2 linked regions of the Homo sapiens genome follow. The protein of the gene in region 1 purifies or fractionates together with the protein of each later gene. This does not show direct contact. Each region holds a gene or a part of one and is shown in the gene's direction. Other genes may lie near its edges. The genes, in order: RTCA and RSAD1.

Region 1 (16,891 bases):
TTTTTAAAGAGACAAGGTTTCGCCATGTTTTTCAGCTGGTCTCGAATTCCTAAGCTCAAGCAATCCACCCACGTTGGCCTCCCAAAGTTTTGGGATTATAAGTGTGAGCCACCACACCTGTCCAATAAATATTCATTGAATTAATGAAATTCATTATTACTGATAGAGACTTCCCAGTTCAATACTTAAGCATCATTGTGTAAGTGAGTTAAATAAAGATCTGTCTTTTGATAGCTAAGAGGCTATGTCGAATTCCCTTTCAAACTACTTATGAATATGATTGCTTTCACTTAACTTTGGAGAAGGGAGATAATGGCTCATTTAGAAAACAACCAGGCCAGGTGCGGTGGCTCACGCCTGTAGTCCCAGCACTTTGGGAGGCCGAGGTGGGTGGATCGCTTGAGCTCACAAATTTGAGACCAGCCTGGGCAACATGGCAAAACCCCGTCATATATATATATTTATATATTTATATATATAAATAAAAATTAGCTGGGCATGGTGGTACATGCCGGTAGTCCCATCTACTTGAGAAGCTGAGGCTTGAGCCTTGGAGGTGGAAGGTGCAGTGAACTGAGATTGTGCCGCTGCACTCCAGCCTGGGTGATGGAAGGAGCCCCTGTCTCAAAAAAAGAAAAGATAATGACCAAGTGTTTCACTTTATGAAATTCATCATGTTACATAACTATTTCTTGTGATTTCTCACATTATTTGACTATAAGGACCAAACAGGCAAGTAAAGCAAGGATTACTTCACTAAAACTTCCCATGTGAAATATTTAGCTATCAGTCTTTTTTTTTTTTTTTTTTGGTCTCCCAGGCTGGAGTGCAGTGGCATGATCATGGCTCACTGTAGCCTTGACCTCTTGGGCTCAGGCGATTCTCCTAAAGTGCTGAGACTACAGGCGTGCACCACAATGCCTGGTTAATTTTTAAATTTTTTGTAAAGATGGAGTCTCACTATGTTGCCCAGATTGGTTTTGAACTCCTGGGCTCGAGTGATCATCCCACCTCTGTCTCCCAAAGTGCTGGGATACAGGCATGAGCCACCACGCCCGGCCAAGCTGTGAGTGTTTGTTATTATTAAAATTAATAATTATTAAAATATTTTATTATACTTTAAGTTCTGGATACATGTGCAGAATGTGCAGGTTTGTCACATATGTACACATGTGCCATAGTGGTTTGCTGCACCCATCAACTGGTCATCTAGGTTTTAAGCCCTGCATGCATTAGGTATTTGTCCTAGTGCTCTCCCTCCCCTTGCCACCTGCCCCCCGACAAGCCCTGGTGTGTGATGTTCCCCTCCCTGTGCCCATGTGTTCTCATTGTTCAACTGCCACTTATGAGTGAGAACATGCAGCGTTTGCTTTTCTGTTCCTATGTTAGTTTACTGAGAATGATGGTTTCCAGCTTCATCCATGTCCCTGCAAAGGACATGAACTCATTCTCTTTTATGGCTGCGTAAAATATTATTCTATCATATCATGAACTCCACAATGACAGGAACTATATCTTTATACCTGGAACAGTACCTTGTTATATAGTAACTAATCATATCCAGACCTTGTCTATTTTGAAAGCATTTTCATAAACTGCTAGTTTCAAGAATTCTTTTGTAAAACTTTTGAAGAAGGTTTTATTTTTAATTTTTTTTCTTTTTTACTTTTTTGTAATATAAAGAAAAGTATCAGAACTTAGCCAAGGTCACACAGCTAATGTGTTTAGTTGAAGATTCAGACCCAGGTTTGGTTATCATTTAAAGCTATTTTTCTATGGTGAAATACTGTTTTTCTTTAAAATTCAGGATTTTACTATTCAGACACTAAAATGTTTTTTAACTAGAAACTCAATGGCATATACCTGCCTTCACAGTTGTCTGTGCTTTAGTTGGTAGTGATGAACAAGAATATAGCTTATTTAAGAGTTTGAAAAGAAAATGCAGAAAAGAAAATGAAAATAAGCCCCTTCTGCCTTCTCCTTAGGAGTGTGTGCCTCTTGATGCAGGTCTCAATGCCGTGTGTTCTCTTTGCTGCTTCTCCATCAGAACTTCATTTGAAAGGTGGAACTAATGCTGAAATGGCACCACAGATCGATTATACAGTGATGGTAAGGGCTTTTGTTGTTGACAAACTAAGATGATCTCATACATGCTTCTGAGTCTCCATTCTCTAAATATATCCTGAGTGTTTTTTTGTGACTTTCTTGTTTATCTCTTCATGGTGTCTTTTCTTTCTTTCTTTCTTTTTTTTTTTGAGACAGTGCTGTTGCCAAGGCTGGAGTACAGTTGCATATCACAGCTCACTGCATACTCAACCTCCTGAGCTCAAGCAATCCTCCTGTCTTGGCCTCCTGAGTAGCTGGGACTACAGGCACACACCCAGCCAATTTTTTTAAATTTTTTGTAGAGTCGATGCCTCACTATGTTGCCTAGGCTGGTCTTGAACTCCTGAGCTCTAAGGATCCTCCCACCTCAGCCTCCCAAATGTGTCTATTGCAGTAGGGGGTGGGGAATTATGTTTACTTTAAGTTTGTTGTTATATCTTGGAATAGTGTTTATAGTGAATTAAAAAAAAAAACTCAAGTGTAGGGCCCGGTGTGGTGGCTCACACCTGTAATCCTAGCACTCTGGGAGGCTGAGGTAGGCAGATCACTTGAGCTTAGAAGTTCAAGACCAGCCTGGGCAACATGGTGAAATCCCATCTCTACAAAAAAATAATATAAATAAAAAACAAAAAACACTACACACAGAAAAATTAGCCAGGCATGGTGGTGCACACCTGTCCAAGCTACTCAGGAGGCTGAGGTGGGAGGATCACTTGAGCCTGGGAGGTTGAGTTTGCAGTGAGCTATGTTGGCACTCCATCCTGGGTGATAAAGCAAGATGCTGTCTTTAAAAAAACAAAAAACACCTCGAGTGTGATATAAATTATATCAGTTGTGATGTGTTATTTTATAAATACAAGGATTATGATTTGGAGGGAAACTCAAACTTTTTTTTTCTATTAAGCCCCTTCCATTCTAGGATCAAACATTTAAAAAATGATTTAAAAAATACTGGCATGCTCATATAACTAGTGGGAGAGAAAAGTGGTATAATCTTTTTTCTTCTAGATTTATTAAAGTGTAATTTTTTCAATTGAATCCACCCTTTTTAACATGCAGTTCTGTGATTTTTGACAGTGACATGATTCACAGTTATGAACCATCTACCACAATCAAGACATAGAATAGTTCCGTTACTCTAAAAAATTCCCTTATACGTTTTTGTAATCAGTCCTGAGCCTCAGCCCCTGGCAACTGCTGATCTGTTTTCTGTCATAGTTTTGCCTTTTGTTCAGAATGTCATATAAGGGATAATACTGTACGTAGGCTTTGAGTCTGGGTTTTTTGCTCTCCATAATACATTTGAGATTCATCCATGTTGCTTGTATCTGCAATGAAAACTTGAGTTGTGTTCTCGTATATGGATGTACCAGTTTGCATATCCATTCATCTATTGAAGGGCATTTGGGTGTTTCCAGATTTTGGCAATTATAAATTAAGTTACTGTTAACATTCATATACAAGTTTTTGTGTGATTGTACATTTTCATTTCTCTTGGGAAAATACTTGCTGGGTTGTTATAATAAGCAAATGTCTAACTTTATAATACATAGCCAGGTTATTTTAGCTTCCAAAGTGGCTACATTTTGCATTATTACCAGTACTATATGAGAGTTCCAGCTGAAGTGGGCACAGTGGTGTGTGCCTATAGTCCCAGCTATTTAATACTTGGTAGGGTGAGGTGGGAGGATCTCTTGAGCTTAAGCTGGAGTCTAGCCTGGGTAACATAGCGAGACCCCATCTCTAAAATAAAAATAAATATCAAATAGAGGGTTCCAGCTGTTCTGTATCCATCCTAGCACTTGATATTTTCAGGTTTTTATTTGTTAAGCTTTTTCTGCCTTTAAAAAAAAACACAAAACAAGGTTAATAACCTGTATACCTCCTGGATACATAGGAGACAACCCAGAGAAATAAGTAAATCTCTAGAGTAGATCTCAAAGAGTTGCCTTAGACATCAGGCTTAAACACCATCTTTCTCTGAAATATTGCCATTCTAATAGATGGTATAATCTTTTCAAAGTCAGTTCGATGGGATGTATAATAAAAATTAATCTCTCCTCACCTAATAATTTGACTTCAAGGAAACTCCTCTAATTCAATATTGCAAAGTTCAGCTAAAGATAAATGTTAAAGGTATTTGAACAGAGCATTATATACTGTAATTATCATTATATAAGATATATCATTATCTAATAATGAAAACTTGGAGAACCGTTAAGTCAATTAGGCTAGGATGCCATGGAGTCATTCAGATTTTGTTTAGGAATAATTTTATGATGTCAGGAAAATGCTTATGTTTATAATGTTAAAGCATTGTCTGTGGAATGAGATTTCAACTGTACAAAAAATTGAGATGACAGAATGGAATGCTCTTCACCAATACCCCCTCATTTCTTAAATGTACTATATTGAGATGCGTGAGGAAGTATTGGCCTTCGGAGTAGAATAACCACTGATATCAAATATCCTAAGTTCCAATTTTTTTCGTTAGATAGACTTGCACAGCTCTGATTAAATAAATGTCAAACTTTTAAATTTAGCTACATATCAGTTTTTTTATTTGAAAAAAATGGAACCAGCCTACATATTCTTATAACACTGTTTACCTATAGCACCCAGTTACTAGCCAGCAAAGCGCTTTTGTTTAATAAATACACTTGTTAAATTAGTGAATATTGCTGATTAACCTAATGATAAAAACTGATTTTTTCAGGTCTTCAAGCCAATTGTTGAAAAATTTGGTTTCATATTTAATTGTGACATTAAAACAAGGTAAGTTGCTTGTTTCTTAAATGTTAGGATCTATTACTTACGCTAGAAGTAGTGGAAAAGTTAGACCCTTAGAGAACTGTCTTTCTGGTACCCACTTAATACATTGCATCTCTTGTAAGAAGTAATTGTACTTTGTGGCTTAAAAATAATGAATAGCAGGAGCATGGGGACTCGAGAGCAGCTACACATCATGGTTATTTATTTCTAGGGAAAATATTTTCAAGGGAATTTTCACAGTGAGGTACCCTCATATCTAGTGATATTTCATGCCCCAGCACAGCTTAAGTGCTCACTGTGTGTAGACAACTGGACTAGACACTAAGGGGTCATAAAAGGAATTCTCTTCCACAATGTGATCAGAATTGTTTTCCTAAGAAACACATTGGGCATTCAGGTTATTTCTCTTTAAGGCTTCCCTTCTGCCACACAATCACTAGGCCATATTTCTTGGTGTGGCATTTAAGTGCTTTGAAGTCTTGCCCTAACTTTTCTAACTTCTTCGTCCCTCTCCTCCTTTCAACGTGTTATGTATTCTAACAATATGTTTGCTTGTTATTCCTTAAATATGCTTTGTGCCTTTGGACTTTTGTGTCTTTGTTCATGTTATTCTTCCCCTGCTCTCCCAAAAGTTAGAAATCCTATGTTTTTTTCAACGTGAAACTTATAATTCTTTATGAACTGTGATTGTGCCTCAATCAGAATTCATATTTGCACCTATGTTGTAGCCTTTCTTATAGCCTGACCTGTATTCTAGTAGACAGTGTGTGGAGCCATCTCCCTACCAGATGGTGAGCTCTTTGAGGGGAGGAGTACTGTCTTCTCACCGTCTGCTGTAAAATAAATGACACCAATTAATTGAATTAAAACTTTTTAAGTGTTTTGCTACTTAAATATTCATCATATATTTATTTGAGGACCTACCATGTGCCAGACATTGTTTTAGGCACAGGAAAATAGCAGGAACAATATAGGTAAGTCTAGCCCTCAAGGCGCTTATATTCTACAATAGCCCTGTCAAATAGAACTTTCTGCATTGGGGTATATGTTCCATATCTATGCTGTCCAATATGGTAGTCACTAGCCAAATGTGACTATTGAGCACTTAAAATGTGGCTAGTGCAGCTGGGGAGCTGATTTTTAAATTTTATTTAATTTTAATAGTTTCACATATCTCAAGGCTACCACATTGTATAGTACAGACAAAATTTTGTTTTTTAATGTATAAAATTTTACAAAATACAGACCTAAAATATTTAGACCTTTCCATGGATTACATGTTTGGATATCATTGACATGTCATTTTATTGTAATATAGAGCTTTGTTTTTGTCATGCAATCAGTTTATGTGGGCATTTGTTATACTTTTCATAGGGGATATTACCCAAAAGGGGGTGGTGAAGTGATTGTTCGAATGTCACCAGTTAAACAATTGAACCCTATAAATTTAACTGAGCGTGGCTGTGTGACTAAGATATATGGAAGAGCTTTCGTTGCTGGTGTTTTGCCATTTAAAGTAAGTTGTTTAGATGTTCTTAGAAATAAAATATATGTGTGTCTTGATAAATATTATGTCAACTAAATTTTGAAATTATTGAGAGAACTTAACATTTTTTTAAGGAAAGAAATAATGTCCTTTGTGGCAATATGGCTGCAGCTGGAGGCCATTATCCTAAGCAAATTAATGTGGGAACAGAAAACCAAATACCACATGTTCTCATAAGTGGAAGCTACGCATTGAATACACATGGACATAAAGATGGGAACACTGGGGACTGCTAATGGGAGGAGGGTGGAAGGGGGCTGAGGGTTGAAACACTATCAGGTACTGTGTTCACTACCTAGGTGATGGGATCATTCATATACCAGATCTCAGCGACATGTAATTTACCCATGTAACAAACCTGCACATGTACCTCCTGAACCTAAAATAAAAGATGAAATATATGTATTAATGGATACATTAATTAACAAAAATAAAATTAATTTGCATAAGCATATTTAAAAATTCAGTGCTCTCTTGAAAATCAAGTTATTAAATAATGCATGTAAAAGCTACCAATTATTTTATGTGTCTTTGAAGTCTTGAAAACAATTTTCCAAATAATCAGTAATTGTTTTATTCTATTTTTCTGTCTTGCTAAAATAGGTAGCAAAAGATATGGCAGCGGCAGCAGTTAGATGCATCAGAAAGGAGATCCGGGATTTGTATGTTAACATCCAGCCTGTTCAAGAACCTAAAGACCAAGCATTTGGCAATGGAAATGGAATAATGTGAGACAATACTTTTTCCTACACATTAGTTGAGAACCCTAAAATAGTTATCTAATTAAATTAAAGATTTTTAGGGTTTCTTGCTTAAGTTTATAGTTTTAAGAAGTATTTATTTATTTATTTATTTATTGAGGTGGAGTCTCGCTCTGTTGTCCAGGCTGGAGTGCCGTGGTGTGATCTTGGCTCACTGCAAGCTCCGCCTCCTGGGTTCATGCCATTCTTCTGCCTGAGCCTCCTGAGTAGCTGGGACTACAGGCGCCCACCACCACGCCCAGCTAATTTTTTGTATTTTTAGTAGAGACAGGGTTTCACCGTGTTAGCCAGGGTGGTCTTGATCTCCTGACCTCATGATCCACCTGCCTTGGCCTCCCAAAGTGCTGGGATTACAGGCATGAGCCACTGTGCCCAGCCTCAGTTTATATTTTTAAGGACATTCCTACCTAAAACACCAGTATGATAAATTAAGACAATTATTCTGAATTTTTTCTGAGGATGGCTTGCCTTTTGTTACCTTGTAAGATCCCTTTCCCTTATATAGTGAACTTAAACGTTTAATCAGAAGTTAGGCTTTAAAGCTAGTCCTATGAGAATATTTCCAGTTGCATAAAATACGTCAAATGTGAAATCAGTTCACAAATAAATATAGCAAAGAGCTTTTTAAAACCAGACTAGAGGCCAGGCGCGGTGGCTTACACCTGTAATCCCAGCACTTTGGGAGGCTGAGGCGGGCAGATCACAAGGTCAAGAGATCAAGATCATCCTGGCCAACATGGTGAAACCCTGTCTCTACTAAAAATACAAAAATTAGCTGGGCGTGGTGGTGCACACCTGTAGTCCCAGCTACTTGGGAGGCTGAGGCAGGAGAATCACTTGAACCTGGGAGGCGGATGTTGCAGTGAGCTGAGATCACACCACTGCACTCCAGCCTGGCGACAAAGCGAGACTCCATCTCAAAAAAAACCAGACTAGAACTATTATGTTAATTCAGTTAGGAGTTATAGATTTAAGTATTAGTACAAATTCTTTAACTGATGTTTTTGAAGTATAAAAGTACCATTTTTGGATATTTAAGTTCCAAATCCTCTCATTCAGAATTTCCATTAAAAGGTTTAAAGTAAACGCTTGCTCTACTTATGATAACACTATCTAAAAACCGTAGAACAATACCAAAGTCTCTGCATAACGACCTTTTTATTTAAGATAATTCTGAAACACTTTATAGTACTGTGTGCCTGTGAAATGGTACCACTTAGTGCTAATGACATGTTAACTTGTTGGGGGGCATGGTAGACATTTCTTAACCTGTGAATTAGAATCTGGTGTGACTTCTCCTGGTCAAGTGGTAAAGGATACTACTGGTCTGATTAAGATAGACAATGTTAATCATACCACTCTATATGAAGAATTTTTACTTTTGCAATTTGTTGCCCAGATTTAGTTCTGCCTATTTAATAGTCATTGTTCTCTTTTGTTGTATTTGCATAAATTTGGAACATTTATAGCAAAGGTAGTAATAACTTTTTTTCTTGCATAGAATTATTGCTGAGACCTCCACTGGCTGTTTGTTTGCTGGATCATCGCTTGGTAAACGAGGTAAGATAAATGAAGGGGGTCCATAGTTCCCAATGCTACTGCAGAATTCTTTAATCCATCAGGATTGGAATGTTATAGAATGATGGATGAAAGTTTAAAAGGATGTAGTTAATTGATTCTCTTTTAGAGTCAATTACACTTTCAGACTTTCAGTCTTTCTCCCACCTTTATACTTTGGAAAATTTCAAACCTATGGAAAAGTTGAATGACTAGTTCAACTAGTCATCCATACAACCTTCTCTTAGATTCACTAGTTATGAACATTTAGTTTGTTGTGTATATTTCTGAGCCATTTCAATATAAGTTGCAGGTGCCATGTCTCACCCCTGAATACTGCAGCATATATGTCCAAAGAGCAATAACTACATAATTATAATACCATTTTTACACCTGAAGAATTTGTTTTATTCTGACACACCAGATAGCTTCATACATAATGAATTGTTTCCAAAATATTATTTAGAGCGATGTGGAATTTTTTTTTTTGGGGGGGGGCACATAGCATTTGTTTCTCAAGTCTCTTTAGTCCCTCTTTTAATACACAATCCTCCCATTACCTTTTTTGTTGTTGTTCATTTCATGATACTGACATTTTTAAGAGTCCAGGCCATTTTCTCACAGAGTTTCCCACAATTTAAATTTGTCTGATTGTCTCATGATATATTCAGATTAAACATTTTTATTAAGAATACTACATAGGTGATTTTGTGTACATTCCACTGTATCACGGCAGGGGGCACATGATGTTAGTTTCTCCTTTATTGGTGAGGTTGAGTGTGATCACTTGGTTAAGGAGGTGTGTCCTGCAGATCTGTCTGCCATGAAAGTTCCTTTTACCTTTGTAATTAACTAGTGATCCAAGAAAATATTTTGAGGCCATCTGGTTATCCTGCACCCATAACAGCTTTCATCCAGTGGTTTTAACATCTATTGATGATTCTTCTCTGCATCAGTTATTACATTGGTGATTTCAGAATTTTGAATGTTTTTGTGAAAGGGAAATTTGTTTAAGGTTTGGTATATTAGAGAGAGAAGATACATACATGCATGTGTTTGTTAATATTTAAAGTTACTTTTACCAATCAGGCAACTTTTAGGTGAACTTCTAGTTGTTTGCGTGGTCATTGATTGCTTTATTCCTACTTTGTAGCATCTTTAAAAATGCTTACCAAGCTGGGCACAGTGGTACACAACTGTAATCCTAGCACTTTGGGAGGCTGAGGTGGGAGGATTACTGAGACCAGAAGTTCAAGACTATCCTGGGCAATGTAGTGAGACTTTGTCTTTGCAAAATAAATAAACAAATAAAAATGTTTACCCTAGCTATGCTGTTAAGCCACACTATTACTACTGAATACAAAAAAAATTAGGAATTCTTCAGTTTGCTCAGTTGGTAAATCTAGAACTAGTTGGGCATCAAATCTGATCAAGAGAATAAATAAAATCACCATTTCCAGTTGAACTCACATAAATGAATTCTGTCTAAAACTGTGCTATTCAAAATGTGGTTGGCAGACAGGCAAACTTGTCAGCATCAACTGGGAGTTCGTTAGAAATACAGATTTTGGGACCTACCTCAGACGTATTGAATTAGAATCTGTGGGAGTGGGGCCCAGGAATCCATTTTAACAAACTTTCCAGGTACTTTTAATGTATACTGAAGTTTGAGAAATAGTGATCTAAAATATGTATTTGGCATATACTAATTACATATTAGGTGCAGTGAGGAATCAGTGTGGATATTGAGCCACTGCATGCACTATCTACAACAGTCTTTAGAAGCAAAGAGAATACAAATATAAAACGGAGACTAGGAGCAGACATATTACAAGTAATAAGTACTTAGCAGGCATTGGGAGAAGTGTGAGTTTGTTTGTATTACTGGTTACCAAATGTGCCAGGTACTGTGTACTAGGGATTCAAAAGTGACAGCTATGATTCCTGCCTCCTGGGTTATTCTGGCAGAGGAAACAGACCAGTTCTATGATAGTGGTATCCCCAGGGTACCATAGGAATACAGGGGAAGCAAAGGGAATCCTTCTGGGGACTGATTGACACCAAATCTGCCTTCTGCCATTTAATGGTCCTCCAGTGGGTTCTGTGGGTAAATAGAAGTTAGCTGGATAGAAAAGTGAGAGCTAAGGAGGAAGGACAAAGAAATTTGACATACAAAAGTATTCTGGGTGAGGTGGCATGCAGCTTTAGTCCAAGCTACTCGGGAGGCTGAAGCAGGATGATTGCTTGAGCCAGGAGTTTGACAACAGCCTGGCCAACATGGCAAGATTCCATCTCTTAAAATTTTTTTTTTTTTAAGTAGCCCCATATGGTGGCTCACACCTATAGTCCCAGCTGCTCAGGAGGCTGAAGCGGGAGGATTGCTTGATCCTAAGATGTTCAAGGCTGCAATGAGCTATGATTGCACCACTGCATTCCAGTCTGGGTGACACAGTGAGACCCTGTCACCAAAAAAATAGTGTTCTGTGTTTGAGCAAGCAACTGCAAGTGGATAATAGATCTGGGTAAGGGAATGGAGAGAGATGACAACAGAAATATCGACAGGCCAGATTCTGAAAGGCTATAGGTTATATCTAGGAATTTACATTTCATCCTGAAATATAGAGCATTTAATGAGGGATGTGATATGAGAGTTTTTGAAAGATAATTCAGAGAAGTAGAAGAAAGCCATATTAGAGGCAGGAAGATAAGAGTTCATTACAATTCAGGTCAGAATGGTAAGGGCCTGTGCCAAGGAATGCTGGGCTAGAGAGGTGAATACTGATAAAAGGGTATTTGCAAAGGTGAATGGACAATATTTGCTGGCCAGTTGGGTATGGGAAGTGAGGAAGGCAGTGTAAAGTATGACCTTCTAGATGTCTGGCTTAGGTAACTGGATATATTTACCTCTTGTGAATATACGGGGTAGAGTTAGTTTGCCAGGGTAGATGATAATTTTAGATATGCTGCGTTGAGATTGATTGTAAAGGGATCATTACTTTATCAGTAATACATGGAATTTTTTTACCAGGCCTGAAAAAAATTTTCTAATGTTCTGTCAGCATTTTTTTCTCACTTTGTCACATGAAGCAACTTGTACTTTAAAGTAGTTTTTGGATAAAACACTTGTAGAGTACACAGTACTTATTTTTAGACTTAGGGTGTTAGGAGAGAATAGAGGAGAGAGCAACATGCCTGCTGAGATTGACTGACTCCTCCTGGTATCCTTCCTTGGTTCCTATCATGCACATCAGTCAAATGAGATGTTAGCAAATGCAAAAGTAACTTGTGGTCTTCTCAATCCAGCTTGTCTATATATTAAGGATCTCAGAGAGAATGTCATGACCTCTATTATCCAGATCCCCTTTCATTTCTGATTTAAATTAACTAGAAAATTACTGGATTTAGGGGCTGGGTGTGGTGGCGTATGCCTGTAATCCCAGCACTTTGGGAGGCCAAGGTGAGCAGATCACTTGAACCCAAGTGTTCAAGACCAATCTGGGCAACATGGCGAAACCCTGTCTCTACAAAAAATACAAAAATTACTTGAGCATGGTGGCATGTGCTTGTAGTCCCAGCTACTCTAAATGCTGAGGCAGGAGGCGGGAGGATCACTTGAGCCCAGGAGGTGTAGGTTGCAGTGAGCTGAGATCACACCACTGCACTCCAGCCTAGGTGATAGAGCAAGACCCTGTCTCAAAAAAATAAAACAAAACTACCAGACCTTGAATCCTAATTTCTTAGGGTTATCACCAGAAGGAACATTGGCTGCTTGTCAATACCACCATAGGTGGTAGAGGCAGGAAGTTGTAACTAGAGATGTCTTTATCATTGTCTCAGTTACTATAACCATTTTGATCTTAGTTTCCTTATATGTTGAGCAAGAAGATTAGCCTGGAGAATCTCCAAAATCCTTCTAACTATAACATTCTTCAATTTTATTTTAAAACGGTGAGATTTTGTTTTGTCTGAGAAAATCTCGCTGTTTTAGACTGAGGCAGTGTGTTATGATAGAGAGCACTAAACAGAGAGTGAGAAGACCTAAATTTTAGTCCCATGTCCTGTCATTATCATGCATAGTGACTCTGGGCTTTCCTTATCTGAAAAATGATATTGGACCGTGATTGTGATCTATGTTTAAGGATCCCTTCCAACTTTAAGTGATTGCATTATAGACAGAATGTGTTTTGTCTTTCCATTGTTGCGTATCTGTGTGATCTTTCATTACTCTTATCTTACAGTTAGTTATATTCTTTACTATGGGAGCAAAATAATCTGCTGAAATGAATTGTGCCTCTGGTTAATCAATCTTTATTTCCTTTGTATAGTAATTGCCTCACTTATAGCAAGCACCTTCCTTCCCTCCCTCAGTGTATGTGGTAATTCAGGGCATCTCTCTGTTTTTGTTTTTGTTTTTTTTTTTCGAGACGGAATCTTGCTTTGTCGCCCAGGCTAGAGTGCAATGGAGCAATCTCGGCTCACTGCAACCTCCGCCTCCTGTGTTCAAGCAATCCTCCCACCGCAGCCTCCCAAGTAGCTGGGATTACAAGTGTGTGCCACCATGCCGGCTAATTTTTGTATTTTTGGTAGAGACGGGGTTTCACAGTGTTGGCCAGGCTGGTTTCGAACTCCTGACCTCAAGTAATCTGCCTCCCAAAGTGCTGGGATTACAGGCGTGAGCCACCGTGCCGGCCTCATGGCATCTCTCTGATGTCCTAAAACAAGTCCTTGAGACCTTTGTTTAAAAACATCCAAAATGTGAGAAGATTGGCAATTAGTTAGAAAAGCATTAAGATTTCAGAAGAAATTGAGATTTTGCTTTTGGTGTGTATAATACTAATAAGCAAGATTCTCATATTTTGCTTATTATGTTCAGTTGCTACAGACTGCTAGTAATGGCAGTTAGTAATGTAGAACCATTCATGCCATTACTATCAAGGTGGCTGGGTGGAAAGGAATGTGAATGGCTCTGAGGAATTCTTTGCTACATGGCAGAAAACTTTAGTGTACCTGCTGTTTTCTAGTACTACAAAGCCGGAAGTTCTTTCCTTTTCCTTTACATCCTCCATCCCTATTTTAGCTGTTTTTCAAGGACTCACTTAAGTCCTTCATGCTTTATGAAACCTCAAATTATTCTAGAACCTATATAATCTCTTACTTTTCTGAACTCCTGTCGGGTATATAGTTTATATCACAGAGTTAGCACTTAATTATCCTCTAATTTTCTAATATATGTGTATTTTAAATGCCTCCTTAGCAAAGGATCTGGTTTCTATTACTTAGCATGGTAGATAAATAGTGGGTATGCAATACTCCTACAGGTTGAGCATTCCTAATCCAAAAATCTAAAATCTGAAATATTCCAAAATCAGAAGCTTTTCAAGTGGCAGTATGCCACAAAACTTTGTTTTATGCACAAAATCATTTAAAACATTGTATAAGGTTGCCTTCAAGCTATGTGTGTAAGGTATGTATGAACATTAATGAATTTCAGGTTTGTTTATTTATTTATTGAGATGGGAGTCTTACTCTCTTGCCCAGTCTAGAGTGGAGTGGTGCAATCTTGGCTTACTGCAACCTCTGCCTCCTGAGCTCTAGAGAGCTTCCCACCACAGACTCCCGAGTAGCTGGAATTATTAGTGTGCGCCACCATGCCTGGCTATTTTAGTAGAGACAGAGTTTCACCATGTTGGCCAGGCTAGTCTTGAACTCCTGTACTCAAGCTATCTGCCTGCCTCCACCTCCCAAAATGCTGGGATTACAGGCGTGAGCCACTGTGCTTAGCTGAATTTCATGTGTAGACTTGGGTCGCATCCCCAAGCTATCTCATTATGTATATCCAAATATTCCTTTTTTTTTTTTTTTTTTTTTTTAATTTTGAGACAGAATCTCATGTGTCACCCAGGCTGGAGTGCAGTGGCACGATCTCAGCTCACCATAACCTCCGCCTCCCGAGTTCAAGAGATTGTTGTCCCTCAGCCTCCTGAGTAGCTAAAACTACAATCGCACACAACCATGCCTGGCTAATTTTTGTATTTTTAGTATTTCACCATGTTGGCCAGTCTGGTCTCGAATTCCTCATCTCAAGTGATCTGCCCGCCTTGGCCTCCCAAAGTGCTGGGATTATAGGCATGAGCCACCATGCCTGGCTCAAATATTCCAAAATTTTTTAAAAATCCAAAATCTGAAACCTTCTAGTCCCAAGCATTTCAGATAAGGGTTACTCAACCTGTGTTATTATTAATAGCTTTTTATGTACTAGTCTGGGTAATAGATGCTTTATAAATATTATCTCTAATTTCTATAACAACTTTGCAGCATAATTATTATCATCTCCATCTTCTAGAAGAGGAAATGGCAGTGGCTAACAAGAAGTCAAGATTCACAAAACATGTTTCAAACCATTTCATTCAGTCACGTAAATACTTGGCCAATTGATAATATAAAGAGGGTAATTTATTATATTATTATGACTACTATAAAGAAAAATAGAGTTTCTGGGCATGATGGCTCATGCCTGGAATTCTAACACTTTGGGAGGCTGAAGCGGGAGGATCACTTGAGTTCAGGAGTTTGAGACCAGTCCAGGCAACGTAGTGAGACCTAGTCGCTAAAAAAAAAAAAGAAAAAAAAAAAAAAGAAAAAACAAGAAAAAACAAGAAAAACAAAGAAAAATAGAGTTAAAATTCTACAATTTCCACTTTGGGGAAAATTTTATCATATATAATCAAGTAAATTTGCAAATATAAAATAGAAACAAAACTAACCACATTTTCATTTTTCATAAGACGTTTTCATTTGCAGCCAAGAATTTTTTAGTTGAGAGTAAATACCTTAAAATAATAATGTGGCATTCTACTACTTGTGACAGACTTACTTTGTATTCAGTGTTGTACCAAAGATTTGGAATATGTATGGAGAGATAGGGAATAGGGCAAGAGGGTAAATATTCTGACTTATATTTAAAATAAGCGAATACCTGTTCAAATCTTAGAGGAAATAAAACTCTAAAATATTTTATCTGATAATGTTATATGCTCTTTTTTTACATAAAATGTAATTTCCTGACTTTAAAAAAATTCTTTAATTTTTTTTTTTTTTTTGGCAGAGTCCTGCTCTGTCACCCAGGATGGAGTACAGTGGCACAATCTCAGCTCACTGCAACCTCCACCTCCCAGGTTCAAGTGATTCTCTTGCCTCAGCCTCCTGAGCAGCTGGGATTACAGGCATGCACCACCATGCCCAGCTAAATTTTGTATTTTTAGTAGAGATGGGGTTTTGCCATTTTGGCCAGGCTGGCCTCAAACTCCTGACCTCAAGTGATCCATCCGCCTCAGCCTCCCAAAGCATTGGGATTACAGGCGTGAGCCACCGCACTGAGCCAAATTCTTTAATTCTGATGGAATTACCTGCAGACTAATTGTAACACGCATGCTTTTCTAGGATTTGGGAGGGGAATTTGTTTGTTTGGTAGATGGCGTCTAGCTATGTTGCCCAGGCCAGCCTTGAATTCCTGGCCTCAAGCAATTCTTACACCTTAGCTTCTCAAAGTCCTGGGATTACAGGCATGAGCCACCATGCCTGGCTGCAAGTTTTAATTTTTGAAATTGAGGCATAGCATTATAGGGTCATAACTTAACTTATAAACTGGCTTTATAAATTAGTACATTTTAAATAGGACTAATGAAGCCTATATTTTCCTCCACTAGTATATTTAAAGGTATAAGACTTGTGTATCCCAAACACTCAGAATATTAAATAACTAAAGATCTTATTCTAAAAGGTGCATTGAGTGGGTTTTTGAGGCCTAAAAATTGTATACCAGTGCTAATTGGGATATACCAAACTTTTTGTCTCTTAGTAATTAGTTTTGTTTTGTTTTGTTTTGTTTTGTTTTAATGTTGTGCTTATCTTAAGGTGTAAATGCAGACAAAGTTGGAATTGAAGCTGCCGAAATGCTATTAGCAAATCTTAGACATGGTGGTACTGTGGATGAGTATCTGCAAGACCAGGTAATGACACATTTAGGTTAAAAACCCTCTAACCTGTTAGATTTGAATATGTGGTAGATTGAATATCAATTTAAATAATTGACTTTCAGACACTAATTAGCAAGTCCTACTTCAATAATTTAAAAAAATATTCTGGGATT
Region 2 (14,870 bases), on another chromosome or scaffold:
TTTCTCATCAAGTTTATGGGGCCTTCAGCTTGGAAGGGAGGAGCCGGGGATGTGGCCTGAAATCAGGAAGGTGGGGTTAAGGCAGCCAGGGGATGGGGGGAGAAGTGTGGGGTGTTGGTAATACCGGAGCCACAGGCACAGACAGGTGGCTGCTCCAGGGAAACGGGGCACTGAGAGAGCTCCAGCTGGAAGAGAATGGTGTCCCTGCTCTCAATTTTCTTTCAGATCTGGGGCCCTGCAGAGATCTAGTCTGCTCACTCCCAGCACCTCTGCCTCCTGACCCCAGGCCCCTACCAATGATGTCTCTGTTTCCACCATTCGGCTGCCCTCCACTTTCCCTTTTCTTTTATGAATTCCTTCCCATTTCCTCAGATAGCTCACCTGATCCCTCTGCACGTGCTGAGCCCTCTTCAAACACCCTTTCTGGACCCTCTAGGTTGCTTATGGAACCACAGAGAACAGTCCCGTGACATTCGCGCACTTCCCTGAGGACACTGTGGAGCAGAAGGCAGAAAGCGTGGGCAGAATTATGCCTCACACGGAGGTGAGCCCCTGACCAAGACTCCAAAGTCCCACCTCCCGTCACCCAGCTGGGGTGCACCCAGCTGGGACATCGGTTGCTTTCAGTGAGAGAGTCAAATGGCTCACTCAGGATGCCTAGAGCCCCCCAGCAGCAGGGGTGTGCTAGGCCTGGCCCGGAGTGTTCTCTGTGGGCTAAGCATGAAAGGGGAAGAGCTGGAACAGTGGCTGTGAGCGGCTGCCAGCTGAACTTCTCCGCGGCCTCCCTTCCTGTCTGAGGTGTGTTTTTGCCAAGCCCACTGTCTGTTTCAGGGCAGCCAGGGTAGCCTCAAAGAGGAGCCAGAGCACAGAGAGTTTTCCTACACAGCTTCTTTTCCTCCAGTGGTGCTCGCCTCTCGCTTTAGCAGAGTTCTTCTTCTTGCTTGGCGTAAACACTTCATTTCCCAAGCAGCCTATCCCTTTGGGGCGGTCCCTTTGCCCCTCAAAGGTTGCCCCAGAGTGCACCTGAATCTCAAATGCCCAGCCATGCCTCCTTTCCTGCTCCAACACTGGGGCTGTGCCAGCTGGCTCCTGATTTCCCCTGCACCCTTCTGCTCCCGCCCCTGGGGGATCGCTGCCCCCGTGCACAAGCAGCTGCTTCCCCTGGGGCTGACCGCTGTCCTGGCGTGAATCTGCCCTGCCCTCCCGCCAGAGCAACCATGTACCCAGGGATTGAGTAGGGATGTGAGCCTCCTCCCGTGTGTGCTACAGCTGCACTGCCACTGTCACTAAGATGCCCACCTGGAAGGGAAACAGGGGCAGGCATCACTCACCCCATTTCACGGACACAGACACTGAGGCACACAGAGGCTCAGCTTTCCTTGGCACGGTGGCCGTGGCTCTTTTCTCTACCAGGCTTTCAGACTCTGTCTCTCCTGTTCACATGGTGTTGCCATGCCACCCTGTTTGGCTTATTTGCTGCTTAATGGGAAGTAAGAGGAGACTCCCTTCTCCTCTGCACGGTTTATAATTCTTCAGCTGGCTCTGCAGTCCACAAACCTCTTTCTTTGCAGCAGCTGCCTGCCCACTCTGTTTCCTCAGCCCTCCCAGCCTGGGACTCAGCTCTTCTTTCATGCCCAGCTCAGGTCTCTCACTGGCTTTGGGTCGACTCTAGCCTTTGTCTCCCTTCTCTGGATGGGGATAAGCAGAGCCAGGGGGCCTCATTCCAGGCAGTTGGGTTGGGGGGTTGGGGGCAGGCAAAGCTCTCTCCATTTCCAAGGACCACCTATCCTGAAGCAAGAGGATAGGAAGCCCCAACCTGAGGCCATCCTGTCCCAGGCCCGGATCATGAACATGGAGGCAGGGACGCTGGCAAAGCTGAACACGCCCGGGGAGCTGTGCATCCGAGGGTACTGCGTCATGCTGGGCTACTGGGGTGAGCCTCAGAAGACAGAGGAAGCAGTGGATCAGGACAAGTGGTATTGGACAGGGTGAGAAGGCAGGGCGGGGTGGAGGCTCTGGCCGCTGAGGGGAGGCTGGAGGTCTTGAGGCTGAGCCGGGAACATTAACCTGGCACCGTGAGGATGTGGGTATCAAGATGACCCCTCACATGCTGGAGTCTTAATTTCCAAAATGTATACGGTGGGGATGATCATACATAGCACAGAAGAAAGCAACTGGGTCATCACCCTACACCAGCAGCTGCAAAATCTGAGTCCAGATTCAGTCACTCATTTGTTAGCTCAGCAAATTCTTACTAGAATTCCTTATGTGCTAGCACCGTTCTCGCCGCTAGAGGTCCAGAGGAAAGTAAGATGAGAAGGATCCTGCTTTTTGGAGGAAGACAGATGATGCCCAACATCGATAAATAACACCAAGAAAATAGGCCAGGCGCGGTGACTCACACCTGTAATCTCAGCAGTTTGGGAGGCCGAGGCGGGTGGATCACCTGAAGTCAGAAGTTTGAGACCAGCCTGGCCAACACAGTGAAACCCCACCTCTACTAAAAATACAAAAATTAGCCGGACGTGGTGGCGGCACGTGCCTGTAGTCCCAGCTACTCGGAGGCTGAGGCAGGAGAATCGCTGTAACCCAGGAGATGGAGGTTGCAGTGAACCGAGATCGCGCCACTGCACTCAAGACTGGGCGACAGAGCAGGACTCCATCTCAAAAACAAACAAGCAAATGAACAAACAAAAAACACTAAGAAAATGAAATAGGGTTATAGGAGAGAAAGTGGCTGTGGTGGGGAGGGGAGCTTCCCTTAGATTGAGTGGACAGAGAAGATGTCTGGAGACATTTGAGCTGAGACCTGGAAAGAAGCCAGTCGTGAAAAGCTATGTATAGATGTGTTGAGAGAGACAGAATATGTTATAGGTATTGTTTTGTTTTTGTCTACCTCCCCTCCCCTTACTGGACTATTAATTCCAGAGACTGTGTCTTGTTCCTGCTATGTCTCCCAGAGTCTAGAGCAGTGGAAGACACATAGTAGCTGGTCAATAAATGTTTCACGACTGAGCAAGCAAGTGAGTGAACAAGGCAGAGATGACAGGTTGCCCCTGGGCTTTCCTTACAGAGATGTCGCCACAATGAATGAGCAGGGCTTCTGCAAGATCGTGGGCCGCTCTAAGGATATGATCATCCGGGGTGGTGAGAACATCTACCCCGCAGAGCTCGAGGACTTCTTTCACACACACCCGAAGGTGCAGGAAGTGCAGGTGAGGCACTTGGCTCAGGTGAGCCCCCAGAAACAAGAAACACACATGAACACGGTGATGTCTGATATTTTTCTTTGGCCCTGGAAGGTGGTGGGAGTGAAGGACGATCGGATGGGGGAAGAGATTTGTGCCTGCATTCGGCTGAAGGACGGGGAGGAGACCACGGTGGAGGAGATAAAAGCTTTCTGCAAAGGGAAGGTGGGAGCCTCCGCTCAACCTAGCTGATGCTGCTCTGTTCTTTGCTCACCCACTCCTCTGCCAACCAGCCCAGGGTGGGGATTGCTCTGCCCTTGACGAAGCTGACTCCTGGCCAGGCCAGCCCCTGGTCCCCTACCCATACCCCTGTGAGCTTGCGCAGCCTCACGCCTTACCTCCCTCCCTCTGGTCTGCAGATCTCTCACTTCAAGATTCCGAAGTACATCGTGTTTGTCACAAACTACCCCCTCACCATTTCAGGAAAGGTGTGTAAGGTGGAGGAGGCTGGGGAGGGCAGCCTGGGCTCTGGGGCCCCATAGGGCCCCACCTCTGTTTCCTTCAGCAATGGGTGTGGAGAGACTGGCAGTAGGGTGACCGGGTCACCTAATCCTGGTTTGCCTGGGGACTTTCCCTGTTTTGGCACTAAGAGCCTGAGAAACCCCTTATTCTTGGGTGAACCAAGACAGCTGGTAACCCTAACTCCATTTTCTTTCCTCTAGATCCAGAAATTCAAACTTCGAGAGCAGATGGAACGACATCTAAATCTGTGAATAAAGCAGCAGGCCTGTCCTGGCCGGTTGGCTTGACTCTCTCCTGTCAGAATGCAACCTGGCTTTATGCACCTAGATGTCCCCAGCACCCAGTTCTGAGCCAGGCACATCAAATGTCAAGGAATTGACTGAACGAACTAAGAGCTCCTGGATGGGTCCGGGAACTCGCCTGGGCACAAGGTGCCAAAAGGCAGGCAGCCTGCCCAGGCCCTCCCTCCTGTCCATCCCCCACATTCCCCTGTCTGTCCTTGTGATTTGGCATAAAGAGCTTCTGTTTTCTTTGGCTTCTTGCTGGTGGGCTCTCTTGGCAGCTACTACAGGATGGAGAAGGGAAGACACTGAGGGGAACTAGCACTTTCAGACGTCCTATTCCTTGTCATTGAGAGTGCAGAGCACCTTGATGTGGATTATCTACTTAATTTAACCCTCACCCTTGGTATCCCTTTGAGATACCAACCCATTTTTGTTGTTGTTCTTGTTTTTTGAGACAGAGTCTTGCCCTGTCACCCAGGCTGGAGTGTAGTCATGCGATCTCAGCTCACTGCAACCTCTGCCTCCCTAATTCAAGTGATTCTCCTTCCTCACCCTCCCAAGTAACTGGGATTGCAGATACCCACCACCACACCCAACTAACTTTTGTATTTTTAGTAGAGGCGAGGTTTTACCATGTTGGCCAGGCTGGTCCTCAAACTCCTGACCTCAAGCAATCCGCCTGCCTCAGCCTACCAAAGTGCTGGGATTACAGGCATGAACCACTGCGCCTGGCCCCAATTTTTTATTTTTAAGCTACTCTAATTTAATTCTTTTTCACATTGTTGCCAGATTAGTCTAGCAAGAAGTATTCTTTTTATATATGTATAACAGCTTGATTGAGATGTAATTCACATACTCTCCAGTTCACTCCCACCTCCCCCATTTTCTAGAGACAGGATCTCATTCCGTCACCCGTGCTGGAGTGCAGTGACTCACTGTAGCGACATGATCATAGCTCACTGCAGCCTCGAACTCCTGGGCTCAAGCAGTCCTCCCACCTCAGCCTCCTGAGTAGCTGGGACTGTAGGAATGTGCCACCATGTCTTAACTAATTTTTAAACATAGACACAGGATCTTGCTATGTTGCCTAGGCTGGTCTAGAACTCATGGGCTCAAGCAATCCTCCTGCCTCAGTCTCTCAAAGTGCTGGGACAATCTACCATTTAAAGTATAGAATTCAGTGGTCTTTAGTATATTCACAAATATGTGTAACTATCACCACAGTCAATTTTAAATATTGTCATCACCTAAGAAAGAAACCCCATACTCTTTAACTATTATCTCCCATCTCCCAGCCCCCTTCCTCCCCAACCAACCTCATTTTTAGTTTTTATTTGTTTTGATTGGTGAACCTGGGGCATCCCTCGTAGGCAGGGCCAGATAAAGCAGGTTGTACCTTGACCCAAGAAATAAAAACAGCTGGGTTCCAAAAGGCACATAGATTCCCAGTTCACAGGAATGGAAACTTGCCTCCTGCCTGCCCCCTTACCTCCCAGCGCGCCTGCCCCCTTACCTCCCAGCGCGCCTGCCCCCTTACCTCCCAGCGCGCCTGCCCCCTTACCTCGCAGCGCGCCTGCCCCCTTACCTCGCAGCGCTCCTGCCCCCTTACCTCCCAGCGCGCCTGCCCCCTTACCTCGCAGCGCGCCTGCCCCCTTACCTCGCAGCGCGCCTGCCCCCTTACCTCCCAGCGCGCCTGCCCCCTTACCTCGCAGCGCGCCTGCCCCCTTACCTCCCAGCGCGCCTGCCCCCTTACCTCGCAGCGCGCCTGCCCCCTTACCTCGCAGCGTGCCTGCCCCCTTACCTCCCAGCGTGCCTGCCCAAGGCAGCAGCAGCCTCCTCTTGACTTTTTAAGAAATGAACATAGGTTTAAGGTATTTTCAGTACCAGGCTCTGTGCTAGGTACTTTCACATTATTTTCTCTCCAAATCTTCCCAACAATCCTTTCAAGTAGCCATTGGTCCCACTTCACCAATGACCCAACAGAAACTCAGGGAGGTTCCGTATCTTGCTCAAGGTCACACAGCTGGATCAGAACCCAGCTGTCTGTTAGGCAGGTTCACTGCACACTAGTTACCAACTTGTCAGAGTCCAGTGAGGCAAACACCCACAAGTTACATAACGCTGAGTCCAGCGAGGCAAACACAAGTGACATGCAACGTGTTTATTACCTATAGGTAGGCACTAAGGGACAACAGAAGGCTGGGATTCATTTGGAGCTGGACCCCTACGGCTCAGGAAAGCTGCTGAGGCAGCTGGGGGATGGACCGTTGTCTGTGCATGCCTGACTTTTTTTTTTGTTGTTGGTTTGTTGTGAGATGGAGTCTCGCTCTTTCACCCGGGCTGGAGTGCAGTGGTGTGAACCCTGGGATTCAAGCAATTTTCCTGCCTCAGCCTCCCTGGTAGCTGGGATTACAGGCGTGCACTACCACGTCCAGCTATTTTTTTTTTTTTTAGTAGAAACAGTTTCGCCATGTTGGCCAGGCTGGTCTTGAACTTCTGACCTCAGGTGATCCACCCGCCTCGGCCTCCCAAAGTGTTGTGATAACAGGCATGGGCCACCACGCCCAGCCAGCCAGACTTGTACTGAAGCTGAGGGACCCCAGAAACCAGCCCGCCCTGTTTTTCGTTTGTTTGTTTGTTTGTTTGATACAGAGTCTCACTCTGTCTCCCAGGCTGGAGTGCAGTGTCGCCATCTGGGCTCACTGCAACTTCCGCCTCCCAGGTTCAAGCAATTCTCCTGCCTCAGCCTCCCGGGTAGCTGGGACTACTGGCACGCACCACCACACCTGGCTAGTTTTTTGTATTTTTAGTAAAAACGGGGTTTCACCGTGTTAGCCAGGATGGTCTCAATCTCCTGACCTTATGATCCGCCCGCATCGGCCTCCCAAAGTGCTGGGATTACAGGAGTAAGCCACCGCGCCCGGCTTCTGCCCTGGGCTTTATACCCTGGGGCCATGTGACATGTTGGGCTGAAGTGTTGAAGGACATGCTTTTTCTAGGGGGACTGGAACAGAGCATGGCTGTGCTGGCCAGTCCTTCCTTCCCTCAGGATGTTGCATTCTCTGCACACTCTACAGTTTTATTTATTTATTTATTGAGACAGTCTTGCTCCATCACCCAGGCTGGAGTGCAGTGGCACTGTCTCAGCTCACTGCAACCTCCGCCTCCCAGGTTCGAGGGATTCTCCCTGCTCAGCCTCCCGTGTAGCTGGGATTACAGGTGCCCACCACCACGCTTGGATAATTTTTGTATTTTTGGTAAAGACGGGGTTTCAGCATGTTGGCTAGGCTGGTCTTGAACTTCTGATCTCAAGTGATCTGCCCGCCTCGGCCTCCCAAAGTGCTGGGATTACAGGCGTCTACAGTTATTCTTGAGAACTACAAGCAAGAAAGGAGGGGAGAACCAGGTCAGTTCAAGGCCACTGGGAGAACTGTCCTGCACCGCCTGCCTCTGAAGCCCATGATGTTTCTGCTTTGTGGGACAGTTGTTCAGGTGCCTGCTTCCCCAGGCCTTCCCCTGCGCCTTCCCCCTCTCTCCTACACACACCATCTGACTGTCCTTCCAGCACGTACACCTCCAGATGCTTGGGTTGGCCTGACCCAAAACAGTCTACTCTCCCGGCCAAGCCAATTGCCCCTGGGATTTTCTGCTCCTCCAAGATCCCGTGCATAGCCCTGGTGGTGGCTCATGCCCTTAATCCTTAGTTACTCTAGATGCTGAGGCAGGAGGATCGCTTGAGGCCGAGGAGTTCAAGACCTCCCCTCTCCCAAATATTTGTAAATGAAATTAAAAGAAAGATCCAGCCCAAGTGTCTCTTCTGCCCTACTGACTCCCACACTCTTAAAACAGATGACCTCACAGCACTGAGGCGGACGGCTCTGGTGTCCAGCAGGCACGGAATTAATACGCCTTGCCTGTCCTGGCCGGTTGGCTTGCCTCTCTCCTGCCAGAATGCAACCTGGCTTTATGCACCTAGATGTCCCCAGCGCCCAGTTCTGAGCCAGGCACATCAAATGTCAAGGAATTGACTGAACAAACTAAGAGCTCCTGGATGGGTCCGGGAACTCGCCCGGGCACAAGGTGCCAAAAGGCAAGCAGCCCGCCTCGCGGCCTGGGGAAAGAACCGACAGGAGGCCGCAGTGAGCGCCCGGGCGCCCGGCAGGTGGCGCCGCAGCCCCGGGCCCGGGCCCTCTTGTCGCGCGGTCACGCAGCCCCTCTTCCTTCCGCCGGCTGCGCACTCACAGTGATCCCTGCGCGCGTCTCCTGCTCGGGTCAGTGCGCCGCGCTGCGCTGGGCGCCATGGCGCTCCCCGGAGCCCGGGCTCGCGGCTGGGCGGCAGCAGCCAGAGCGGCCCAGAGGCGCCGCCGCGTGGAGAACGCAGGAGGGTCCCCGAGTCCTGAGCCTGCGGGCCGGCGCGCGGCGCTTTACGTACACGTGAGTAGGGGCGGGGGCGGAGCCCACGGTGTGTGGCCGCAGCCCTGGCCGTGACCGTGGCCGTCCAAAACCCAGGTGGCGGTTTGTCACTCTATGAACCCGCCTGCCGTGTTTCCGTGCCCCCGTACGAGGTCTGGGATGGGACCCTGTGCTTTGGCAGGGAAATGACTTGGTCCAGAAACCTGAAGTCTCTGCTACTCACCGGCTCGGTGACTCTGACCAAATGGTTCAAATTTCATAACAATTTTCCTCTTAGCAAGACAAAATTTTCTTAAGAGCAGTGTTCTGACTCGGTAGCTGGGAAAATGGCTCATAGGAAAATTGTATGAAAATTATATGATCCCAGAAAGAGCTTGGGTTGAATTCCTTCCTGACGTCTGCTGGTTGGAAGAGGCAGCGTAACAAAGGAGTGAGCCTCAGTTTTCTCACATTGAAGTGGATGTAATAACCCCAGTGCGACCTGCCTTGGGGAGTTGTGTGGCTTAGATGTCCTAGCTACTGTGGAAAGACCTCGGGATAGGGGTGGGGGTGGGGTTGGGGGTGTGTGCGACTGAACCCTGGAAGTGGCCAGGGCAGCTCTCACCGCGCACGTGCACTCACTGCCCCCAGTGGCCTTACTGCGAGAAGCGCTGCAGTTACTGCAACTTCAACAAGTACATCCCTCGCCGCCTGGAGGAGGCTGCCATGCAGAAGTGTCTGGTGACCGAAGCTCAGACGCTGCTGCGGCTCAGCGGGGTGCAACGGTGGGTAGTGGGGGCTGTAGGCAGCGTTTTGGGAAATATTTGGAGGAGTGGTGGGGGATAGGTGCAGGCATCCCAGAGGGCTCCCCCAGGTCTCATTTCTCCATTCTCTTTCCCCAGGGTGGAGTCTGTGTTCTTTGGTGGGGGGACCCCCAGTCTAGCCAGTCCCCACACGGTGGCTGCTGTCCTGGAGGCTGTGGCACAGGCAGCCCACCTGCCTGCAGACTTGGAAGTCACATTGGAGGCTAATCCTACTTCAGCTCCGGGCTCCAGACTGGCAGAGTTCGGGGCAGCAGGGGTTAACAGGTTGTCTATAGGCCTCCAGGTAACCCATGGCACTCACCCCATCCCAGTGCACCCCGCCCTTCAGTGCCATCTCCTCTTTGGTCACATTCATTCATTGGGCAAACATTGATTGAGCACCTTCTGGGTGCCAGGGACACAGTAGGGCCTAGTGCGACACTTTTATAACTCCTTAATTGTCTGCTGCTGTCATAGACCACAGACTTTATGAGAAAGGGATCAGGTGTGGCTTTTCTATTTCAAACACTTACCATAGTGCCTGGCACATAGTAGGTGGTCAAAAAAGATTTGCTACATGACACGGGAGACGCAGACATGTAGCCAGATTATTGCAGCATGGTAAATGTCACCTGTAAAGGGGGTCTCTATAAAAGGCTTCTAGAGTACAGCCTGAAGGGAGGTCACTCTGATGAAATCACTGAAACTTCTCTGGAGGAGATGTTTGAATGAAGAGGAAGAGTTCACCAGGTGAGGGGGTGTGGGGGAAACGACACAGGCCATGGAAGAGCCTGGCATGTTTTGGGGGAGTTGTGAGTCATTCCTTGTGATTGGAGAGGCTGGAAACAAGGTTGCAAGGTAGAGTCCAAAACCTTTGGTGCCTACTAAGGAGTGTGGGTTTTGTCCTAGTAATGATAGGGAGCCATTGAAGGTTTTTAAGTAGGGAGAAACCTAGTCGTCTCAGGTTGACCTCCGATATTTCCGTAGGACTTCCGGGTTGTGGGCTTTGTTCTGATGGAATATGCTGACAGAAACACATCACTTCTAAGATATTCTTACCCCAAAGCGCATATCTTGAATCTAATTGTCAGGAAACCCTGAATTAAGAGATTTTTACAAAATTATTGTGGTAAGAACAGACAGCATGAGATCTACCGTCTTAACAAGTTTTTAAATGTACATACAGCACTGTTAACTATAAGCACAGTGTTATACAGCCAATCTGTAGAAATTATTCATTTTAAATAATTCATTTAAATAATTATAATTCGTAAATAATAATAATTTATTTAAATTCATTAAATTATTCATTTTAAACAACTGGCCTGTATTCTTCAAAAATGCCAGTGTCATGAGAGACAAAGAAAGGCTGAGAATCTAAAGGAGACAGAAGAGACAGCTGAATACAATGTGTGGCCCCTGACTGGGGAGGAAGGAGGAAATTACTACAGTAGATGTTATTGGGACCATTAGCCAAATTTGAATATGACAATGTATTATGTAATGGTGTTGTGTCAGTGTTGCATTTCCTGAACTCTGTAATTGGATTGCAGTTATGTAAGAGAATGTCCTTGTTCTTTAGGAAATACACACCTAAGTATTTAGAGGTTAGGGAGTATAATATCTATAACTGCTATTCAATATAGTGGCCACTAGCCACAGACTAGTGAGCATTTGAAATGTGGTAAGTTAAGTTTAATTCACTTAAATTTAAATAACCACATGTGGCTACTACCTATCATATTGGACAGTACAGATATGAACATTTCCACCATTGTAGAAAGTTCTTTTGGACAGTGCTGGTTTATAATTTACTGTTAAATGATTCAGCATAATAACAGGTATGTATGTTTAAAGAGAAACAAATATGGACAAATGGTGAATCAAGATGAAGGTTTTTTTTGTGATTTTCTTTCAACTTTTCTATAGGTTAGAATTATTTAAAATTGAAAAGTAAAGTAAATAAAGACTTGATTTTGGAGTCAGACAGTCCTAAATTCCAGGTCGAACTTTGCAACTGTATGGCCTGGACAAGTTACTTAACACCTCTGAACCTCAGTTTTCTCATCTGTAAAATAGAACTAATATTGGAGGGTTACAAAGATTAAATTAGACACTACATAAAGGTGCTTGGCACATAGCGACCCTTCTGTGAATGGCAGCTCTTGGTGCCAGCTTGACCTTCCCCCTCCTGCCTTCCAGCTGCCTGCCACGTGCTGCGTTCTCCCTGTATCTGTGTCTACAATGGGGAGGAGGGTTCTTGTCTCTCTCTGAGCTGCTGGTATGCTTACACCCACCCTCTTTTCCCAGTCCCTAGATGACACTGAGCTCCGGCTGTTGGGACGGACGCACTCGGCCTGCGATGCTCTGCGGACGCTGGCAGAGGCCCGGCGCCTCTTTCCCGGGCGCGTGTCTGTAGACTTGATGCTGGGGCTGCCGGCACAGCAGGTGGGGCCGTGGCTTGGGCAGCTGCAGGAACTGCTGCACCACTGTGATGACCACCTCTCCCTCTACCAGCTGTCCCTGGAGCGGGGCACCGCACTCTTCGCCCAGGTGCAGCGGGGTGCCCTTCCAGCCCCTGACCCGGAGCTCGCAGCTGAGATGTACCAGAGGGGCCGGGCTGTCCTTCGGGAGGCTGGCTTCCACCAGTATGAGGTCTCCAACTTTGCCCGGAATGTAAGTTCTGGGGCTGATGGCTGGAGGTGGAGGATGGGCAGACTGCAGTGTGACCAGGGCGTTGTGACCTTCTGAAGAGAAGGATCCTGGCCGAGATGGTGGGACATTCTAACCTGGGGCCCCTTACCTGAGTCTAAAAATGAGGCCTGCCCTCTTCACTCTGCACTATTTCCTCCCTCCCCGCAGGGGGCGCTCAGTACCCACAATTGGACTTACTGGCAGTGTGGTCAGTACCTTGGCGTTGGGCCTGGTGAGTCCCGTGAACTACAGAAAGGGTGACTCAGGAGAGGAATGTCGTGGCTGTGTGAACTTGGGCCACATTAACCTCTCCAAGCCTCTATTTTCTCATATGTAAAATGTGGCAAAAAATAATACCTCCCTATAGAACTGTTGAGCATGAATTATAAGGGGCTTAATGTTGCACCTTGCACTAGGGTTCTCAGCCTTTAGTGTGTATGAGAATCTCCTGGAGGGCTTGTTAAAACCCAAGCTGCTGGGCCCCACCCTCAGAATTCCCAATTGGACAGGGCTAGAGGAGAGCCCAAGAATTTATATGTCTTGGCATTTTGGGATAGATGATTAAAAAAAAAAGAAAAAGAAAAAAGGGCCTGGTGTCATGTGCCTCTAATCTGAGCTACTTGGGAAGCTGAGGTGGAAAGATCGTTTGACCCCAGGCGTCCAAGACCAGCCTGGGCAGTATAGTGAGACACCACCTCAAAAAAAAAAAAAAAAAAAAGAAAGAAAGAAAGAAAGAAAAGAAAAGAAAAATAATTTATATTTCCAGTATGTTAGAGGCAGTTGCTCCAGGGACCACATGATTTAAATCTGGTAAACACATAGTATTAACAGCCATTAATGTGGGGATGGTTGTTGATGTTGTCAGGGGCCCATGGACGATTTATGCCCCAGGGGGCTGGAGGCCACACCCGGGAGGCTCGGATCCAGACACTGGAGCCTGACAACTGGATGAAGGAGGTGATGCTGTTTGGCCATGGCACCCGGAAGCGTGTCCCCCTGGGCAGGCTGGAGCTGTGAGCATCCAAGGGCACAGGGCTCTCCTCCAGGATCCCCACACCCCAAGACCATGTCTATTTGTATATCTTTTATTTCCTGTCTTGTCCTGGCCCCTGCCTTGCCACATACTGTATGGTCCCTGTTAGCCTCCTCTAAATGCATCCCAGTGTAGAATTTGGAGAATGGGAGGAGCACAGGCCTCCTCTCTAAGACTCCTTGGTGATTTTTCTTTGAGGCTGGAGGAAGTTTTGGCCCTGGGGCTACGCACCGATGTGGGGATCACTCACCAGGTAAGGAGTTAGGATTCTTGCACACCACTCCCTCCTAAAGTCTTGCAGAATCAATGCCCCCTCCCTGCCACCCCCCCCACACACATATACCTCCAATTTCTGTGAGATTGGCAGCTAGAAGTGGGGCCCAGGTCCAGCTGAGGCCTGATGGGCAGAAGCAGTGAGCAGTGGTGCATAGCTAAGAACCCTAGACCAGGGCTGCAGAGACCCAAGTTCCAGCCCTCATTTTACTGCAACCTTGGACACAAATCCTTTCACCTCTCTTAACCTCAATTTTCTGAGCTCTGTGAAGCAATAGATAGATAAAGGGTTTCCACTTGTTTTTAGGGAGCACTGAAACCTCTCATAGGAAGCACAGTAGATAATTATCAAGCAAATCCAGAGCTGCTCTGGATAAAGCAGAGCCATAAAGCCCTGGCTAGAGCTGGCTGAGAGGGGAGGGAAGAGAGGAGGCATAGAGGAAGGCCTGGCTTGGCTGGAAGCTGGGTTCCAGTCTCAGTGGAATAGGAGTGAAGCTGCCCTCCTCCCTGCTGGCCCATTGGCCTGGTTCTGCTTTCATGCATGTCAGCTGCTGAGATCTCCATGCTGAACTGGACCCTCCCCCACCTCTCACCATACCCCAACTATGTGGCCCAGAGTAGCCAGGCCAGCTCCCCACCTCTGACCCTCTGGCTTCCCCAGCACTGGCAGCAGTTTGAGCCCCAGCTGACCCTGTGGGATGTGTTTGGAGCGAACAAGGAGGTGCAGGAGCTGCTGGAGCGGGGCCTACTGCAGCTGGATCACAGGTGTGTTGGGGGGTGCCGGGCAGAGGGGGCTGAGGCATACCAGGGAGCCCTGACTACAGCTCTCCACAGACCCAGGAGAAGTGAGAAAGACTGACTGGTAAGGCGGGACCTGCGGGTGCTGGGAGCTCGGCCCTGCTGGGTGATGGGCTTGAAATTGGTAAGATGAAGTAGTCACCTTCAGGCCTCTTGGTTTTCCAGGGGTCTTCGGTGTTCCTGGGAGGGTCTGGCTGTGCTGGACTCTCTCTTGCTGACCCTCCTGCCTCAGCTCCAAGAAGCCTGGCAGCAGAGAACCCCCTCCCCTGTGCCAGGAGGATGACAAAAATGTTCCTGTGTTCCAGGGTAATGCCAGGTGGGTTTTGAGAGCTGGGTCGGTACTGCAGACATCTCTTCTCCGTTGTCGGGTGCCGTCTCTGCTCCTTGTGGTTATTGCTCAGCCCTGGCATCCCCAGGGGAATGGCAGCAGTGAGGTAGATGGGAGGACATTTCTGGTCAGGGAACTGGCATCCCATTCAGCATCTCAGGACTCACAGGCCAACATGTGTTCCATGGCTGGGAATTGCCTACCACCCACATCAGCTTCTGTTTACCTTTTTGGCATCAAATAATGAACAGTGTTTGGAAATCTTTCTACAGGCAATTACCTCCCCAAGAGAAGCCTTCCTTATTTTGGAGTAAGGTCCTAAGATAGCTGGATGAATCAGGAAAACCATGTCCCCTCTAGGTATTATTAATATAAGCAGGAAGGGATCTACTATAGGAATGAAGTATTTATAAACCACTGAAAGGGATAGAGAAGTGAACATTGGAGAAAGCCAGTAGCAACTGTGAGAAATCAGCAACTTGCAGGAGGCACAGAAAACTCCTGCTGATGGTCTCAGCTTCCAGCAGCACAAAAGCAGATGATGTACTGGAAAAT

What was found.
Region 2: the proteins of RTCA (region 1) and RSAD1 purify together in Homo sapiens (co-immunoprecipitation; 2 studies listed by BioGRID and IntAct, with this or other methods). This does not show direct contact.

Annotation. Positions count from the first base shown.
Region 1 is NC_000001.11:100,268,572-100,285,462, forward strand, and holds part of RTCA (RNA 3'-terminal phosphate cyclase), read left to right. Parts: intron 1-1,985; coding exon 1,986-2,109; intron 2,110-4,822; coding exon 4,823-4,881; intron 4,882-6,252; coding exon 6,253-6,394; intron 6,395-7,027; coding exon 7,028-7,152; intron 7,153-8,686; coding exon 8,687-8,745; intron 8,746-12,669; exon of another isoform or gene 12,670-12,737; intron 12,738-16,656; coding exon 16,657-16,751; intron 16,752-16,891.
Region 2 is NC_000017.11:50,470,592-50,485,461, forward strand, and holds the start of RSAD1 (radical S-adenosyl methionine domain-containing protein 1, mitochondrial precursor), read left to right. Parts: upstream 1-8,268; 5' UTR 8,269-8,293; coding exon 8,294-8,428; intron 8,429-9,037; coding exon 9,038-9,171; intron 9,172-9,288; coding exon 9,289-9,493; intron 9,494-11,499; coding exon 11,500-11,865; intron 11,866-12,051; coding exon 12,052-12,115; intron 12,116-12,748; coding exon 12,749-12,896; intron 12,897-13,114; coding exon 13,115-13,169; intron 13,170-13,850; coding exon 13,851-13,954; exon of another isoform or gene 13,955-14,051; intron 14,052-14,152; coding exon 14,153-14,270; 3' UTR 14,271-14,870. Other genes in the region: ACSF2 (medium-chain acyl-CoA ligase ACSF2, mitochondrial), read left to right, coding at 437-544, 1,837-1,988, 3,074-3,215, 3,303-3,413, 3,608-3,676, 3,911-3,961.